2 separate regions of the Homo sapiens genome follow, and region 2 is linked to region 1. A link means that fine-mapping ties the variant in region 1 to the expression of a gene that starts in the linked region. Tissue or cell type: whole blood. Region 1 holds a variant in brackets; the other region holds the start of a gene. All regions are shown on one strand. Distances are between the middles of the regions.

Evidence for each region. PIP is the estimated chance that this variant, and not a neighbour inherited with it, causes the effect. A credible set is the group of variants that fine-mapping cannot tell apart.
Region 2: it holds the start of LRRC70, and the variant in region 1 is the best candidate, but not a certain one, in a credible set for the expression of LRRC70 in whole blood (INTERVAL, PIP 0.51).

What each region holds. Positions count from the first base shown.
Region 1 is chr5:62,668,812-62,677,286 of GRCh38, forward strand. No RefSeq gene overlaps it. Among named protein-coding and RNA genes, the nearest start is that of LRRC70, 94 kb to the left of the region's middle. The variant A/G (reference allele first, on the strand shown) is at 4,052.
Region 2 is chr5:62,575,373-62,583,847 of GRCh38, forward strand. LRRC70 (leucine rich repeat containing 70) reads left to right here and starts at 3,447. Exons shown (of 2, transcript NM_181506.5): 1 at 3,447-3,563; 2 at 4,029-6,074. The coding sequence starts at 4,067. The coding sequence ends at 5,935. All of the region lies in intron 27 of IPO11 (importin 11), which reads left to right. It overlaps IPO11-LRRC70 (IPO11-LRRC70 readthrough), which reads left to right and starts at 3,363. Exons shown (of 4, transcript NR_073584.1): 1 at 3,363-3,563. It also overlaps the pseudogene RPL35AP14.

The DNA.
Region 1 (8,475 bases):
CAAAGGACATGAACTCATCCTTTTTTATGACTGCGTAGTATTCCACGGTGTATATGTGCCACAGTTTCTTAATCCAGTCAGGGATAGCATTAGGAGATATACCTAATGTTAAATGATGAGTTAATGGGTGCAGCACACCAACATGGCACATGTATGCATATGTAACAAACCTGCACATTGTGCACATGTACCCTAAAACTTAAAGTATAATTAAAAAAAAAATACTCCATGTCAAACATAAATTGTAGCTCTGAGAATGTGAACTATATTGCTGGTGAACTTTGTCCTAGGCTAAAGTCTTTCCCTCCTTCAGTCTTTTATTTACATTCTCACTTCTTTTCTTCTATTCCTGTGGAATGTTGCCAAATGGTGCTCCTATATTTAATAATATTAAGTTTTAAAAATCCACTACTTTAACACGTCTAATTTTCTGAGAGTTATCTTTTTGTTCTTGTCCATATGCACATAGATTTTTACATAGTTGTTTTCTTTTTTTTTTTTATTATACTTTAAGTTTTAGGGTACATGTGCACATTGTGCAGGTTAGTTACATATGTATACATGTGCCATGCTGGTGCGCTGCACCCACTAACTCGTCATCTAGCATTAGGTATATCTCCCAATGCTATCCCTCCCCACCACCCCCCACCCCACCGCAGTCCCCAGAGTGTGATATTCCCCTTCCTGTGTCCATGTGATCTCATTGTTCAATTCCCACCTATGAGTGAGAATATGCGGTGTTTGTTTTTTTGTTCTTGCGATAGTTTACTGAGAATGATGATTTCCAATTTCATCCATGTCCCTACAAAGGACATGAACTCATCATTTTTTATGGCTGCGTAGTATTCCATGGTGTATATGTGCCACATTTTCTTAATCCAGTCTATCATTGTTGGACATTTGGGTTGGTTCCAAGTCTTTGCTATTGTGAATAATGCCGCAATAAACATACGTGTGCATGTGTCTTTATAGCAGCATGATTTATAGTCATTTGGGTATATACCCAGTAATGGGATGGCTGGGTCAAATGGTATTTCTAGTTCGAGATCCCTGAGGAATCGCCACACTGACTTCCACAATGGTTGAACTAGTTTACAGTCCCACCAACAGTGTAAAAGTGTTCCTATTTCTCCACATCCTCTCAATATCCAGAATCTACAATGAACTCAAACAAATTTACAAGAAAAAAGCATACGTAGTTGTTTTCACGGTACTCACAAAACTTTGAAGTCTGCTTTTCTCATCTGATGATATTTATAAACATTTTATATGTCCACAAATATCCCATAAACACCAATTTTTAATGAATGCATAATTCATTATAATCAAACTAGCCATAAAACTATTAAGTTATTTTCTTATTGCTAACATTTGAATTGTCTCTGTTTTGGGTTGTTGAATGTGATGCTATAATATATGCTTTTTTACATAGACTCAGAACTGGAATTATGTGGTCAGAGGTAAGAATATTTTCATAGCCAAAAAGATATATTGCCTGAATATTTTTCATCAACAATGCCACCAGCAGTGTATATCATTTTTACCCCACTCTTACTAACACTGAGCATCTAACAGCTTTCACTCGCAAACAAGTGTGCTTGTACCAAGAAAGTGTTGTTAAAGTAATGACAGATCATTTCTGAGTGTTATGTGGAATTATAATTTCCCAAATTGGAAAATTTCCCTTTTTCATTTTACACTAAATTAGTAAAACCTATAAGTACTATAGCTTTAATTTACATAATAGTGCTTTGCATAATAGGTATTCCATATTAACTGATTGATTTAATTGTATATCCTATAAGATAATAATCATGGTACCCTACAGCGGAAAAGGGAAGTGGAAAAGAGGGATATAAAAGGGGTGATGAGGAGGGAAAATGTGGGTGAGATGTCATCAGATTACACCAAAGGGAAAACCAGGAACATCTCCTCCAGGGACAGGGTCATAACCCTATCCACTAGTACTCTGAACATAGCCAAGTCTGTCCACATCTATTCCTGACTCCAGAACTTGACTCTCCCCACTCTTTCCCTCCCTCCACCCCCAACATCCCTAATGACTGAGCTTCCCCTTCATTCCTTCTCTCCTGGTTCGACTTGCCCTATCACCTGTGCTCGCTTATTCCTTAAGGTGTACGGTGCAATCCTCAGCCTTGTGAGGGATGCAAGGATTAACCATGTGGGCCCTGCCTTTCTGGAGTTCGAAGTCTGATAGGAGAAGACATGAATAAACAGCAGAATGTGAACAATGCCGTAAGAAGGCTACAGATGGGGTGCTTTGGGAGCTTTCTTCCAGAAGTGGCATTGAGACTGGACTGGGAGGCCCTGAAAGAATTTGGACATTGGATCTGACACTGTCCCCCAGCTTACCAGGATCCTCCGTGCTCTCCAGATCCCTACTGCCTCAGTCACCAAGCCGGGTCCCCCCAAAGCTGAATATGCCAGAGGGGCATGCAGAACGTTTGAAAACTTACCAGACATTATTTCCCTCTCAAATTGCAAGATGGTTTTGCTGTTTCCTATTTTATTTCTTTTTGATATTTCCTTTTTTAGTGAAGTGAAACATATCTTTTAAAAAGTGAGTGTGCTTGAACTGTGTGAGGCAGTACAAGGGGTGCCAGTGTAGTCCCCAGGTATGTGAGAGAAGGCAGCTGATTGGACTGGTCCATGCCTGTACCTTATCGATCTTTGTGCTTTACTGACCACTCTCTGTGCTGGACCAGTTGTTAGAGATTTCAGTTAATGTTCCTGGGAGAAGGAACATTGGGCATTTCTTGTAATGTAAGGAGAATGCAAGTGACTAGGTGATCAGTCTATGATGTTAGGTGACCAGGGCCCTGGAGCCAATTGTGATGCCTCATCAGAAAAGAATGTACTTGCTGAATGTGTGAGAATTGGATTATGTGCTCTTTTCTTTTTAGTTATTATCTCTTTAGTTATTATTGTCTTTGCTTAATTCTCTTCTGTGCCAACCCAAGCCTCTTCAACTATTTCTCTTTCTGTAATTGCAGAGCTCTGTTAGTCCAAGTTGGACTAACAGTTGATCCTTTCACAATATTTACCACATTTACCAGGCTGGCTGAATATTATAGAATTAGAGAGATGTCATCCCAAGTGATGCAGTGTTGGAGGGAGAAGCTCAACCCCCTGAAGACTTCTAAATGTTTCTAAATGCATGTTTAATTTCAGAATACATATTGTAATTGCTAAATTGTTATGACAAGACATAGACAGACATATTTATCTTCCACTTTTCCAAGTTTTAATAATCACGGTAATGAAGTTGTTGTATATCCTCCCCACCCCTAAAGAGACAAAAGGGCATCCAGGGAGTGGATCCCACTCACACCCAAATGAACTCTTAGATTACTGAGGCCAGACTGGTTCTTACCTAGCTGTCCTCAGAACACCATGCCTAGAACTTTCATGTTTAGGGTTTGACCACACAAGCCATTGGTCAGTTGGGTTTCCCATAACAATCAAGGAGCTCTGGTTGAGAGAGTTGTGCACCTTTCATGGGATGGGCTTAGAGTGAGGTCAGGCTCCTAGTCAGAGCGTCTGTGATGCATCTTGAGTTTTCGTTACTCTCAGTCTATTCATCTGAAACCAGTCCCCCTTCCTATTCTGCCATTTAGGAAAATCGTAGATGGTCTGTAAATTGAATCTATGCCCAGTGGTCCTGAGTAGTGAGATTTATTCAGAATATAATTAAAACAGATATAATATGCCCCTTCTGCCTACCATAGGACCTGATCGCTTGCCCAAAAGGCTCTGGAGTCAGGAGTGACTTTGGGCATAGAGAGAGTAATTTTTCAAGTCATTATTTTCCTGGGGCTTGGAATATGTGGATGTTGTCAAATAACTTTTTTTTTCTTTTTGTCAAAACTAGTTCCTCTTTGGGGATATAACCTGACACTATAGTAATTCTGTGTTCCTTGGACTCTCTTTTAAGCACTACATGAACTAAAGAATGATTAAATTCTGATTCTTTTTTTTTTATTATACTTTAAGTTTTAGGGTACATGTGCACAATGTGCAGGTTTGTTAC[A/G]TGTGTATACATGTGCCATGTTGGTGTGCTGCACCCATTAACTCGTCATTTGACATTAGGTATATCTCCTAATGCTATCCCTCCCCGCTCCCCCAACCCCACAACAGGCCCTGGTGTGTGATGTTCCCCTTCCTGTGTCCATGTGTTCTCATTGTTCAATTCCCACCTATGAGTGAGAACATGTGGTGTCTGGTTTTTTGTCCTTGTGACAGTTTGCTGAGAATGATGGTTTCCAGCTTCATCCATGTCCCTACAAAGGACATGAACTCATCCTTTTTTATGGCTGCATAGTATTCCATGGTGTATATGTGCCACATTTTCTTAATCCAGTCTGTCATTGTTGGACATTTGGGTTGGTTCCAAGTCTTTGCTATTGTGAATAGTGCCACAATAAACATCTGTGTGCATGTGTCTTTATAGCAGCATGATTTATAATCCTTTGGGTATATACCCAGTAATGGGATGGCTGGGTCAAATGGTATTTCTAGTTCGAGATCCCTGAGGAATCGCCACACTGACTTCCGCAATGGTTGAACTAGTTTACAGTCCCACCAACAGTGTAAAAGTGTTCCTATTTCTCCACATCCTCTCCAGCACCTGTTGTTTCCTGACTTTTTAATGATCGTCATTCTAACTAGTGTGAGATGGTATCTCATTGTGGTTTTGATTTGCATTTCTCTGATGGCCAGTGATGATGAGCATTTTTTCATGTGTTTTTTGGCTGCATAAATGTCTTCTTTTGAGAAGTGTCTGTTCATATCCTTCACCCACTTTTTGATGGGGTTGTTTGTTTTTTTCTTGTAAATTTGTTTGAGTTCATTGTAGATTCTCGATATTAGCCCTTTGTCAGATGAGTAGGTTGCGAAAATTTTCTCCCATTCTGTAGGTTGCCTGTTCACTCTGATGGTGGTTTCTTTTGCTGTGCAGAAGCTCTTTAGTTTAATTAGATCCCATTTGTCAATTTTGGCTTTTGTTGCCATTGCTTTTGGTGTTTTAGACATGAAGTCCTTGCTCATGCCTATGTCCTGAATGGTATTGCCTAGGTTTTCTTCTAGGGTTTTTATGGTTTTAGGTCTAACATTTAAGTCTTTAATCCATCTTGAATTAATTTTTGTATAAGGTGTAAGGAAGGGATCCAGTTTCAGCTTTCTACATATGGCTAGCCAGTTCTCCCAGCACCATTTATTAAATAGGGAATCCTTTCCCCATTGCTTGTTTTTGTCAGGTTTGTCAAAGATCAGATAGTTGTAGATATGCGGCATTATTTCTGAGGGCTCTGTTCAGTTCCACTGGTTTATAGCTCTGTTTTGGTACCAGTACCATGCTGTTTTGGTTACTGTAGCCTTGTAGTATAGTTTGAAGTGAGGTAGCGTGATGCCTCCAGCTTTGTTCTTTTGGCTTAGGATTGACTTGGCGATGAGGGCTGTTTTTCGGTTCCATAGGAACTTTAAAGTAGTTTTTTCCAATTCTGTGAAGAAAGTCATTGGTAGCTTGATGGGGATGGCATTGAATCTATAAATTACCTTGGGCAGTATGGCCATTTTCACGATATTGATTCTTCCTACCCATGAGTATGGAATGTTCTTCCATTTGTTTGTATCCTCTTTTATTTCCTTGAGCAGTGGTTTGTAGTTCTCCTTGAAGAGGTCCTTCACATCCCTTGTAAGTTGGATTCCTAGGTATTTTATTCTCTTTGAAGCAATTGTGAATGGGAGTTCACTCATGATTTGTCTCTCTGTTTGTCAGTTATTGTTGTATAAGAATGCTTGTGATTTTTGCACGTTGATTTTGTATCCTGAGACTTTGCTGAAGTTGCTTATCAGCTTAAGGAGATTTTGGGCTGAGATGATGGTGTTTTCTAAATATACAATCATGTCATCTGCAAACAGGGACAATTTGACTTCCTCTTTTCCTAATTGAATACCCTTTATTTCCTTCTCCTGCCTGATTGCCCTGGCCAGAACTTCCAACACTATGTTGAATAGGAGTGGTGAGAGAGGGCATCGCTGTCTTGTGGCAGTTTTCAAAGGGAATGCTTCCAGTTTTTGCCCATTCAGTATGATTATATGCTGTGGGTTTGTCATAGATAGTTCTTATTATTTTGAGATACGTCCCATCAATACCTAATTTATTGAGAGTTTTTAGCATGAAGGGTTGTTGAATTTTGTCAAAGGCCTTTTCTGCATCTATTGAGATAATGATGTGGTTTTTGTCTTTGGTTCTGTTTATATGCTGGATTACGTTTATTGATTTTCATACGTTGAACCAGCCTTGCATCCCAGGGATGAAGCCCACTTGATCATGGTGGATAAGGTTTTTGATGTGTTGCTGGATTCAGTTTGCCAGTATTTTATTGAGGATTTTTGCATCAATGTTCATCAAGGATATTGGTCTAAAATTCTCTTTTTTGGTTGTGTCTCTGCCTGGCTTTGGTATCAGGATGATGCTGGCCTCATAAAATGAGTTAGGGAGGATTCCCTCTTTTACTATTGATTGGAATAGTTTCAGAAGGAATGGTACCAGCTCCTCCCTGTACCTCTGGTAGAATTTGGCTGTGAATCCATCTGGTCCTGGACTTTTTTTGGTTGGTAAGCTATTAATTATTGCCTCAATTTCAGAGCCTGTTATTGGTCTATTCAGAGATTCAACTTCTTCCTGGTTTAGTCTTGGGAGAGTGTGTGTGTCGAGGAATTTATCCATTTCTTCTAGATTTTCTAGTTTATTTGCGTAGAGGTGTTTGTAGTATTCTGATGGTAGTTTGTATTTCTGTGGGATCGGTGGTGAAATCCCCTTTGTCATTTTTTATTGCGTCTATTTGATTCTTCTCTCTTTTCTTCTTTATTAGTCTTGCTAGCAGTCTATCAATTTTGTTGATCATTTCAAAAAACCAGCTCCTGGATTCATTGATTTTTTGAAGGGTTTTTTGTGTCTGTATTTCCTTCAGTTCTGCTCTGATCTTAGTTATTTCTTGCCTTCTGCTAGCTTCTGAATGTGTTAGCTCTTGCTTCTCTAGTTCTTTTAATTGTGATGTTAGGATGTCCACTTTAGATCTTTCCTGCTTTCTCTTGTGGGCATTTAGTGCTATAAATTTCCATCTACACACTGCTTTGAATGTGTCCCAGAGATTCTGGTATGTTGTGTCTTTGTTCTTGTTGGCTTCAAAGAACGTTTTTATTTCCTCCTTCATTTCGTTATGTACCCAGTAGTCATTCAGGTGCAGGTTGTTCAGTTTCCACGTGGTTGAGTGGTTTCCAGTGAGTTTCTTAATCCCGAGTTCTAGTTTGATTGCACTGTGGTCTGAGAGACAGTTTGTTATAATTTCTGTTATTTTACATTTGCTAAGGAGTGCTTTACTTCCAATTATGTGGTCAACTTTTGAATAGGTGTGGTGTGGTGCTGAAAAGAATTTATATTCTGTTGATTTGGGGTGGAGAGTTCTGTAGATGTCTATTAGGTCCACTTGGTGCAGAGCTGAGTTCAATTCCTGTATATTCTTGTTAACTTTCTGTCTCGTTGATGTGTCTCATGTTGACAGTAGGGTGTTAAAGTCTCCCATTATTATTGTGTGGGAGTCTAAGTCTCTTTGTAGGTCACTAGGGACTTGCTTTATGAATCTGGGTGCTCCTGTATTGGGTACATGTATATTTAGAATAGTTAGTTCTTCTTGTTGAATTGATCCCTTTACCATTACATAATGGCCTTCTTTGTCTCTTTTGATCTTTGTTGGTTTAAAGTCTGTTTTTTCAGAGACTAGGATTGCAACCCTTACTTTTTTTGTTTTCCATTTGCTTGGTAGATCTTCCTCCATCCCTTTATTTTGAGTCTATGTGTGTCTGCACATGAGATGGGTTTCCTGAATACAGCACACTGATGGGTCTTGACTCTTTATCCAATTTGCCAGTCTGTGCCTTTTAATTGGAGCATTTAGCCCATTTACATTTAAGGTTAATATTGTTATGTGTGAATTTGAACCTGTCATGATGATGTTAGCTGGTTATTTTGCTCATTAGTTGATGCAGTTTCTTCCTAGCCTTGATGGTCTTTACAATTTGGCATGTTTTTGCAGTGGCTGGTGCTGGTTGTTTTTTTCCATGTTTAGTGCTTCCTTTCAGAGCTTTTTTAGGGCAGGCCTGGTGGTGACAAAATCTCTCAGCATTTGCTTGTCTGTAAAGTATTTTATTTCTCCTTCACTTATGAAGCTTAGTTTGGCTGGGTATGAAATTCTGTATTGAAAATTCTTTTCTTTAAGAATGTTGAATATTGGCCCCCACTGTCTTCTGGCTTGTAGAGTTTCTGCAGAGAGATCAGCTGTTAGTCTAATGGGCTTCCCTTTATGGGTAACCCAACCTTTCTCTCTGGCTACCCTTAACATTTTTTCCTTCATTTCAACTTTGGTGAATCTGACAATTATGTGTCTTGGAGTT
Region 2 (8,475 bases), 93 kb before region 1:
CATGGTCTCTTACTCCTCAGTACTTACAGTCTAGGACCAATTATTGTTTTAGTTCTTGTGTTTTTGTAGTCTCTTTTACTCTGTCATGTCATTTCCTCAGTCTTTTCTTTTTCTCTTATAACATTTTTAAATAATCCACTCCTTATAATCTCTCTCCATCTTTCCAATTGCCTCTCTGTTTTTGTCTCCCATCCATCCTCTCCCCACCTCCCCCAGCAGAATAGAGTGTTCCTCATTTGTGGTTTGATATTTCCTTATGGTTAGATTTATGTATGCATCTCTCGTTAGAATATTGCATAAGTGATGTGTCCCTCTTGGAATATCACAGGCAAAGTCACATGGTGCTCATCTGTTTCTCACTGATGATGTTAATGCTGGTCAAGGTGTTATCTGATTTCCCCACTGTGTATAGTTACTATGTTGTTATTTTTTTTTCTTGCAACTGATAAGAGGTCTATATTGAGATATACTGCCCCTCATTAAAATTTATCTCCTACATTGAGCAAAAGAATTCTCAAATTGTTTGCTAAATTTTTTTTTCCAGGAACACAAGTCCACTTTATTTACCTTTCATTAGTTTAAATCTTTAAGGGGTTACAGCATCTATGTCCAATGGCCTTAGCAGAAGGATCGCTTTGGAATTTGGCAAAAACCATGCCAATGTTTCCTTGGGCCCAAGTTACCTTTCTCTAGAATACTCTGATTTTGTTTGGTTTGCTGCCAGGAGTCACTTGTTGTTCTTTGCTTTGTGTGCGTAAGCACATTTATTGCCCAAATAGAATTCAGTTTCATCTTGGGCATAAACACCTTCAGTTTTAAGAAGATTTGTGTGCTCCCTTTGGTTCCAGAGACCCTGCTTATAGCGCAAAAATGGCCTTGGATGACAGCCTTCCAGAAATACTTGCCTTTTAGAAGTCATGTTCCAAGCAGGCCTCGACAGGCTTCATGATGGCAGGAAGAGCTGGATTATTTTTAATTGCAAATCCCATTTCACATTTTCATTCTCTTGATTTTAGTTCCATCAGTGACTTTTAAGGTCCATAAAATCAGTAACTGCTGTTATTATAAGCCATTCTTTATATGTAAACCAATCTTGATTGGTTTATATATAGATGGTATATATCTAAATACATATAGGCTGGACGCAGTGGCTCACACCTGTAATCCCAGCACTTTGGGAGGCCAAGGTGGGAGGATTACTTGAACCTACTAGTTCAAGACCAGCCTGAGCAGAATGGCAAGACTCCGTCTTTACAAAAATAAGAAAAAGCATGGTGGCATGCACCTGCAGTCCTAGCTACTCAAGAGGCTGAGGGAAGAGGATCACTTGAGACTGGGAGGTCGATGCTGTGGTGAGCTGTACTCACATTGTTGCACTCCAACCCAGCCGACAGAGCAAGACTGTGTCTCAAAAGAATACATGCATCCATACAGATGATGTATATTTAAAAGAGCTAATGGAACAATTGCTCTGTTATTTATACATTCTTGTTTTTGTATGGGGAGAATCTGAATGGAAAAGAGAATAGTTGTGTATTAATACCAGAAGCATGAGATGATTTGAAGACAAAGGCAGTGTAAAAGAAGGTTCAGCAACAAGAATGAGAGGAAAACAGCTCAATGAGTCAATTTCCTGGAAAGAAATAGAAGACTAATTTAAGAGGTTGAGCGTAGTGTTCAGTAATAGTTGTAATGAACATTAGTAATCAGAAAAGGATAATGAGGAATCATTGTTGATCAGTTGTCTCTAAGAACAGCAACTCCTAAATGAACAGAAAGACTAAACTTTGTTTTGCTGGAGATAGGAATTTTTTTTTAAACCATTCAACCTGAGAGTTACAGTGTACTATTTATATTTGCTTGTTTTGTTGAAGTCAGTTTAGTTTCCTTCAGTTTTTAGAATGTGAGAAGTGAGATTTTATTTTGTCATTTTTCCTTAATACAGTTTCCTAAAAATTTTACCTTTGCATCCTAATAAGTGTTCTTTACTGCTTTGGATATTTTTGGCATAAAGAACAAAATTAATTCATACTCTGGTTATATTACTTTGTGGGTTTTTTCTCTTTAATTTTATTTTTATTTCAAAGGACCCTTTCTCTGAATTTTTCCCAAGAAATTGAAAAATCCATGGGACAAGCTTCATATCACCTTGTATATTATTGGAAGTACTAAACAAAATGGACCTGAGAAACATAGCCCCTACCTCAAATTCATATCATTTCTGTCACTTGTTTTGTTTTCCATTTTTAATGCATAAAATAGCAATAACAGTAACCAGCCATAATGGATAGGTGTAAGAATCATAAGTCATTTTGATAACGATCTGCTATCCAGTATGCATTGCTGAATTTTTAGTCATAGAAAGATAATGCTAGGTATTATTTCAGCTTTCTAATATGGACATAATTCATATTATTTCTAAAGTAATTGTTGATGTGAAATGAAACTGCTTTAATATCAAAGGAGAGTTGTATACAATTATATAACTTGATATTTTAGGAATATTATCAGGCTATTAGTAATATTAATAAAAGTCAGAATTAGAAAGCTTAAGCAACTAGCTTAAAGTTAATGAAAGAAAGTTAATGACTGAACAATATATAATATAAACAATTTATATCCGATTCTTTAAATTCTTGAAAAATGACGTTAAAAAATTCTCCATTTTTGTTCTAAAAGATTCAAACTGATACAGATATATATAGGGCGAAACATCGCCTCTTTTACTCTCCCCAATTTTTCTTGCAAAGATAACCTATGTCAGTAAGTTGGTATGCAGCTTCTTAACATCTTATAACCCAACACAACCAATTAGTGCGTTACTACTAATTAGTAGCTTACTACCAATTAGTACCTCACGTATTAAGTAGTACTCAGTATTTTTTGCAACCAAAAATATTTTGAAAATTTTAAAAAGAGCACTGGAGGATAATATAACAACATTTATGTTCATTCTAAATTTTTTCCCCTATTTTTATTAAAGGAATAAAGCATAAAGTTTAAGTCTTCAATGCGTATTTAACACAACATAAATATTTTATTCATTAAAAAGTTTACAAAAAATTGTATTACTCGATATACATCTTATTTGAACTAGCCTTTTCCATTCAGTAGCTATGTTGTTTGATAGCTAGAGTCTGTTGATTGATATTTGGGTTCTGAATAACTAATGTTTTCAAGTATCCTTTAAAAACTATTATTTTTATATTATAGGAGATATTTCAATGTGTATATTAGGAAAACTCTAACTGCATTCTGAAAAAATAAGTTCCTGAGATTTCCGTTCAGCAATACTTTTGAAACACAGATAAAATTACTTCCTGTCTCTTAGCTTCCTGTATCCATGGCAACCTCTGTTTTACACATTGACTGTAAAGGAACCAATGTGAAGAGTGGTGTTTCCTGAGCAAACGGTGACTTAAAAAAAAAAAAAAAAAAGTGGTGGGGTGGAGGTCAGCAGTGCCACAGAACAAACTGGAGTTAAGAAATGTCGTTCTTCAGATTTAAAAAGAAAACCTTTACTGAATCAGCTGAGTGTTAATAATACGAATTTCCTTTTCTTGGTAAGATTATTTACTTAAATATGAACTTCTAGCTGACATGAAAAATAGTTCTGTGAAAAACTGTAATTTAGAATTTAATTGTTCTGTAGTGAATTTGTATTTTCATAAATTATAATGTTATTTGATATTAGACTTTATGTTGTTAAAGGGACATATTAAATTCAAAGATTCTCATTCCTACATCATTTGTCACCTGTGTTGTAATCAATTGTAATTTTTAAGTTAACTTAGCAAATGTTTCATTAATCTGAACTATTTTGTCAAATAGTGGGTTAATGGCCTGATCATGTTAATAATTCTAGAACGTATTCCATACTCATTATTTTTTGCTATTACCATGGTATGATTTATGATAGTATTATTGGCTGATCCTAATTAAAATAGAATACAGAAGTTATAGTATTATAAAAAAAATTCATTTGATGAAGTTTTCGTGATTTAAAGCTTTACCTTCTCTTTTTATAGCCAATTCTGATCTGAACAGAAAATCCAAGAACAGGGATATGTGTGGATTACAGTTTTCTCTGCCTTGCCTACGACTGTTTCTGGTTGTTACCTGTTATCTTTTATTATTACTCCACAAAGAAATACTTGGATGTTCGTCTGTTTGTCAGCTCTGCACTGGGAGACAAATTAACTGCCGTAACTTAGGCCTTTCGAGTATTCCTAAGAATTTTCCTGAAAGTACAGTTTTTCTGTATCTGACTGGGAATAATATATCTTATATAAATGAAAGTGAATTAACAGGACTTCATTCTCTTGTAGCATTGTATTTGGATAATTCTAACATTCTGTATGTATATCCAAAAGCCTTTGTTCAATTGAGGCATCTATATTTTCTATTTCTAAATAATAATTTCATCAAACGCTTAGATCCTGGAATATTTAAGGGACTTTTAAATCTTCGTAATTTATATTTACAGTATAATCAGGTATCTTTTGTTCCGAGAGGAGTATTTAATGATCTAGTTTCAGTTCAGTACTTAAATCTACAAAGGAATCGCCTCACTGTCCTTGGGAGTGGTACCTTTGTTGGTATGGTTGCTCTTCGGATACTTGATTTATCAAACAATAACATTTTGAGGATATCAGAATCAGGCTTTCAACATCTTGAAAACCTTGCTTGTTTGTATTTAGGAAGTAATAATTTAACAAAAGTACCATCAAATGCCTTTGAAGTACTTAAAAGTCTTAGAAGACTTTCTTTGTCTCATAATCCTATTGAAGCAATACAGCCCTTTGCATTTAAAGGACTTGCCAATCTGGAATACCTCCTCCTGAAAAATTCAAGAATTAGGAATGTTACTAGGGATGGGTTTAGTGGAATTAATAATCTTAAACATTTGATCTTAAGTCATAATGATTTAGAGAATTTAAATTCTGACACATTCAGTTTGTTAAAGAATTTAATTTACCTTAAGTTAGATAGAAACAGAATAATTAGCATTGATAATGATACATTTGAAAATATGGGAGCATCTTTGAAGATCCTTAATCTGTCATTTAATAATCTTACAGCCTTGCATCCAAGGGTCCTTAAGCCGTTGTCTTCATTGATTCATCTTCAGGCAAATTCTAATCCTTGGGAATGTAACTGCAAACTTTTGGGCCTTCGAGACTGGCTAGCATCTTCAGCCATTACTCTAAACATCTATTGTCAGAATCCCCCATCCATGCGTGGCAGAGCATTACGTTATATTAACATTACAAATTGTGTTACATCTTCAATAAATGTATCCAGAGCTTGGGCTGTTGTAAAATCTCCTCATATTCATCACAAGACTACTGCGCTAATGATGGCCTGGCATAAAGTAACCACAAATGGCAGTCCTCTGGAAAATACTGAGACTGAGAACATTACTTTCTGGGAACGAATTCCTACTTCACCTGCTGGTAGATTTTTTCAAGAGAATGCCTTTGGTAATCCATTAGAGACTACAGCAGTGTTACCTGTGCAAATACAACTTACTACTTCTGTTACCTTGAACTTGGAAAAAAACAGTGCTCTACCGAATGATGCTGCTTCAATGTCAGGGAAAACATCTCTAATTTGTACACAAGAAGTTGAGAAGTTGAATGAGGCTTTTGACATTTTGCTAGCTTTTTTCATCTTAGCTTGTGTTTTAATCATTTTTTTGATCTACAAAGTTGTTCAGTTTAAACAAAAACTAAAGGCATCAGAAAACTCAAGGGAAAATAGACTTGAATACTACAGCTTTTATCAGTCAGCAAGGTATAATGTAACTGCCTCAATTTGTAACACTTCCCCAAATTCTCTAGAAAGTCCTGGCTTGGAGCAGATTCGACTTCATAAACAAATTGTTCCTGAAAATGAGGCACAGGTCATTCTTTTTGAACATTCTGCTTTATAACTCAACTAAATATTGTCTATAAGAAACTTCAGTGCCATGGACATGATTTAAACTGAAACCTCCTTATATAATTATATACTTTAGTTGGAAATATAATGAATTATATGAGGTTAGCATTATTAAAATATGTTTTTAATAATTTGTGAACAGTGTATTCATTTAGCAAATATTTTCTTTGATATATACTGTATTAAGTAATAATAGCTAACATTTCTGTGTATCAAGCACTGTGCCAAATATTTCACATTTCACATTTAATCTGTGAATAGTCTTGAAAGGTGGCACTATTTATACTTTACAGGTGAGGAAACTTAAAGTTTAAGTAACTATGCCAAATTCTCACAGCTTGTAACACTTTTTGGGCCTCTCTGACTAGAGTTCATGCTTTCAGTTTTATACTATATTGCTGCTTTGGTTCTAGGATTGTGATATGAAAAAAATAGACGTGGTTCTTATTCTAGGTAGAGCTTGAAATTTAGAGGAGGAGATATATGGTTACTGCACAGTGCGATGATAAGTACTGTACTTGGAGATGCTGTTGAGTATAACATTTGTGGAGGTGAGAGATGGCTTTATGAAGAAAGTGACATCAAAACTGGATCACGAAGAATAAATAGAAATTAGCCCAGTGAAGAGAGCTGAGTAACATCGTGTCAGAGGGGTTAACAGAAGAAAACCTGCTGCTTTTCAGGAACTAAAATTCAGTACAGCTGGTGTCGTGAATGATGGTGTGCGATTTAAAGCCCGAAAGAGAGATCAGGTGATGAAAGCTTTATAGTTACATGCTTTATCTTGAGGGCAACAGAGAGCCATTGAAGGATTTTTAAGCAGTAGAGTGAAATGATTAGATTTACCCTTTAGAAATTTCCCTCTTTCTGGAAGGAACAATAAAACCGGAGCCAGAATTAGGTGAGTAGGAATCTGAATTGCTAATCCAGGGGAAAGATGCTAGAGGCCTGGGCCAGGATACTGGCAAAAAGGATGGATGGATCCAGAGGTACTTTGAAAGTAAAATGAACTGCCTTGGTGATTGGTTGAGGCGTGGCAGGGGAGGGAGAAGTCAAAGATGTTAGGTTTTTGGCTTAGGCAGTTTTGTGCTGTATTCACTAAGCTAGGGAAAGAAAAGGGGTGGGGCAAAATAATGAGTCAGTTTTAGACAGATTGAATCTGAGGTTCTTATTAGATCTCCACATGGAAATATATATCATGCAGAAATTCAGAAGCGAGGTCTTATGGTAAAGGCCAATATTTCTTAAACTTTCATCTGTCCAGTACACTGGAAATGTATGATGCACCCTTTACAGTAACAATAACCATTTAAGCTGTGGTTTTGGGAGATAGGTAAGTGGGGAAGAATAAGACCTTGTAGAAGTTGAGAGAGTCCCTAGGAGATATTAGTGCCCTTGATTAAGAATCTTTAATATAGATGGTAATTGAAGTCATAGAAGTAATATAATGGTTTTCTTTATTAGCAAAAATTTGTACTTGCAGAATATTTGTACTGCAGAATATTAGGGATTATAGTAAGTGCCTATGCTTGTTGGTTAGTTAATAGTGACCTGAACCACAAATATGTATTTAAAATTTTTTCTTAATATATTTGAGAGAAAATCAGAAAGGAGCTGAAAAGTAATTTTAAGATATATTAGAAATTGCATAAATAAAGCCCCACCAACCCCAAAGGGTTTTCAAACAATGGTTTGCTTTTCCCTGCTTAGCTGAATGCCTTTTTGGGGATTATAATTTCAGCAGAAAATGTGAATATATTTAAATAAACATTATTTTTCCTAAGTAATTTGTTTTGTTATGGAAGAGCAATCTTTTTGTTCACCTTGAGAGACATTTTTAATAATGTATTTTTTTCTTTGTTGTATCCTCCCAACTCCTACAAATCCAATTATGTTTTTTCTTTAATTACTAAAAGTACTTGTTCATTGGGAAAAAATTTAAACAGTGCAGAAATACATAAGGTAGGCTGAAAACTTCTCCATGCCTCCCTTCCTTACCACCTAAACCGTACCCTCTTAAAGATGTTCACAAGCAACACAGCTGGCTATGTGAAGTTCAGGAAAATTTATATAACAAAGTATTTTTATCTTAAAATTCCTAAATTCAAAAAAGGCAGTTCAGAAAATCTATCAAAATTTTTGCTTTTTGAAAGTATAGCTTCTAATTGATTTAGACTCAACTAGAAAACCAATTATATTAATATCAATTTATATATGGAGCCATAGTTCTATACAGTGGTATTCATTAAATGTTCATTTCAGTCTTTGTCAGCTATTTCCTTTTAAAAAATTTTTCTTTTTTTACTAATCAAAAGAGAGCTGGAGTAAGTAGCTACCCCCTTGAAAAATGTTAGCCAGCTCATATTTCACCGTTGTTTGGTAGTTGTACAGTTAAAAAACTTATTTAAGGTATAATTGAAGTGTTACAGGCATAATAATTTTCTTGGGTACAATTTCTGTATTTCATTGTTTCACATTTTGAGCAGCCCTAAGTTAAAACTAAATGATATTCTAAATTAATATAGCTAAGGA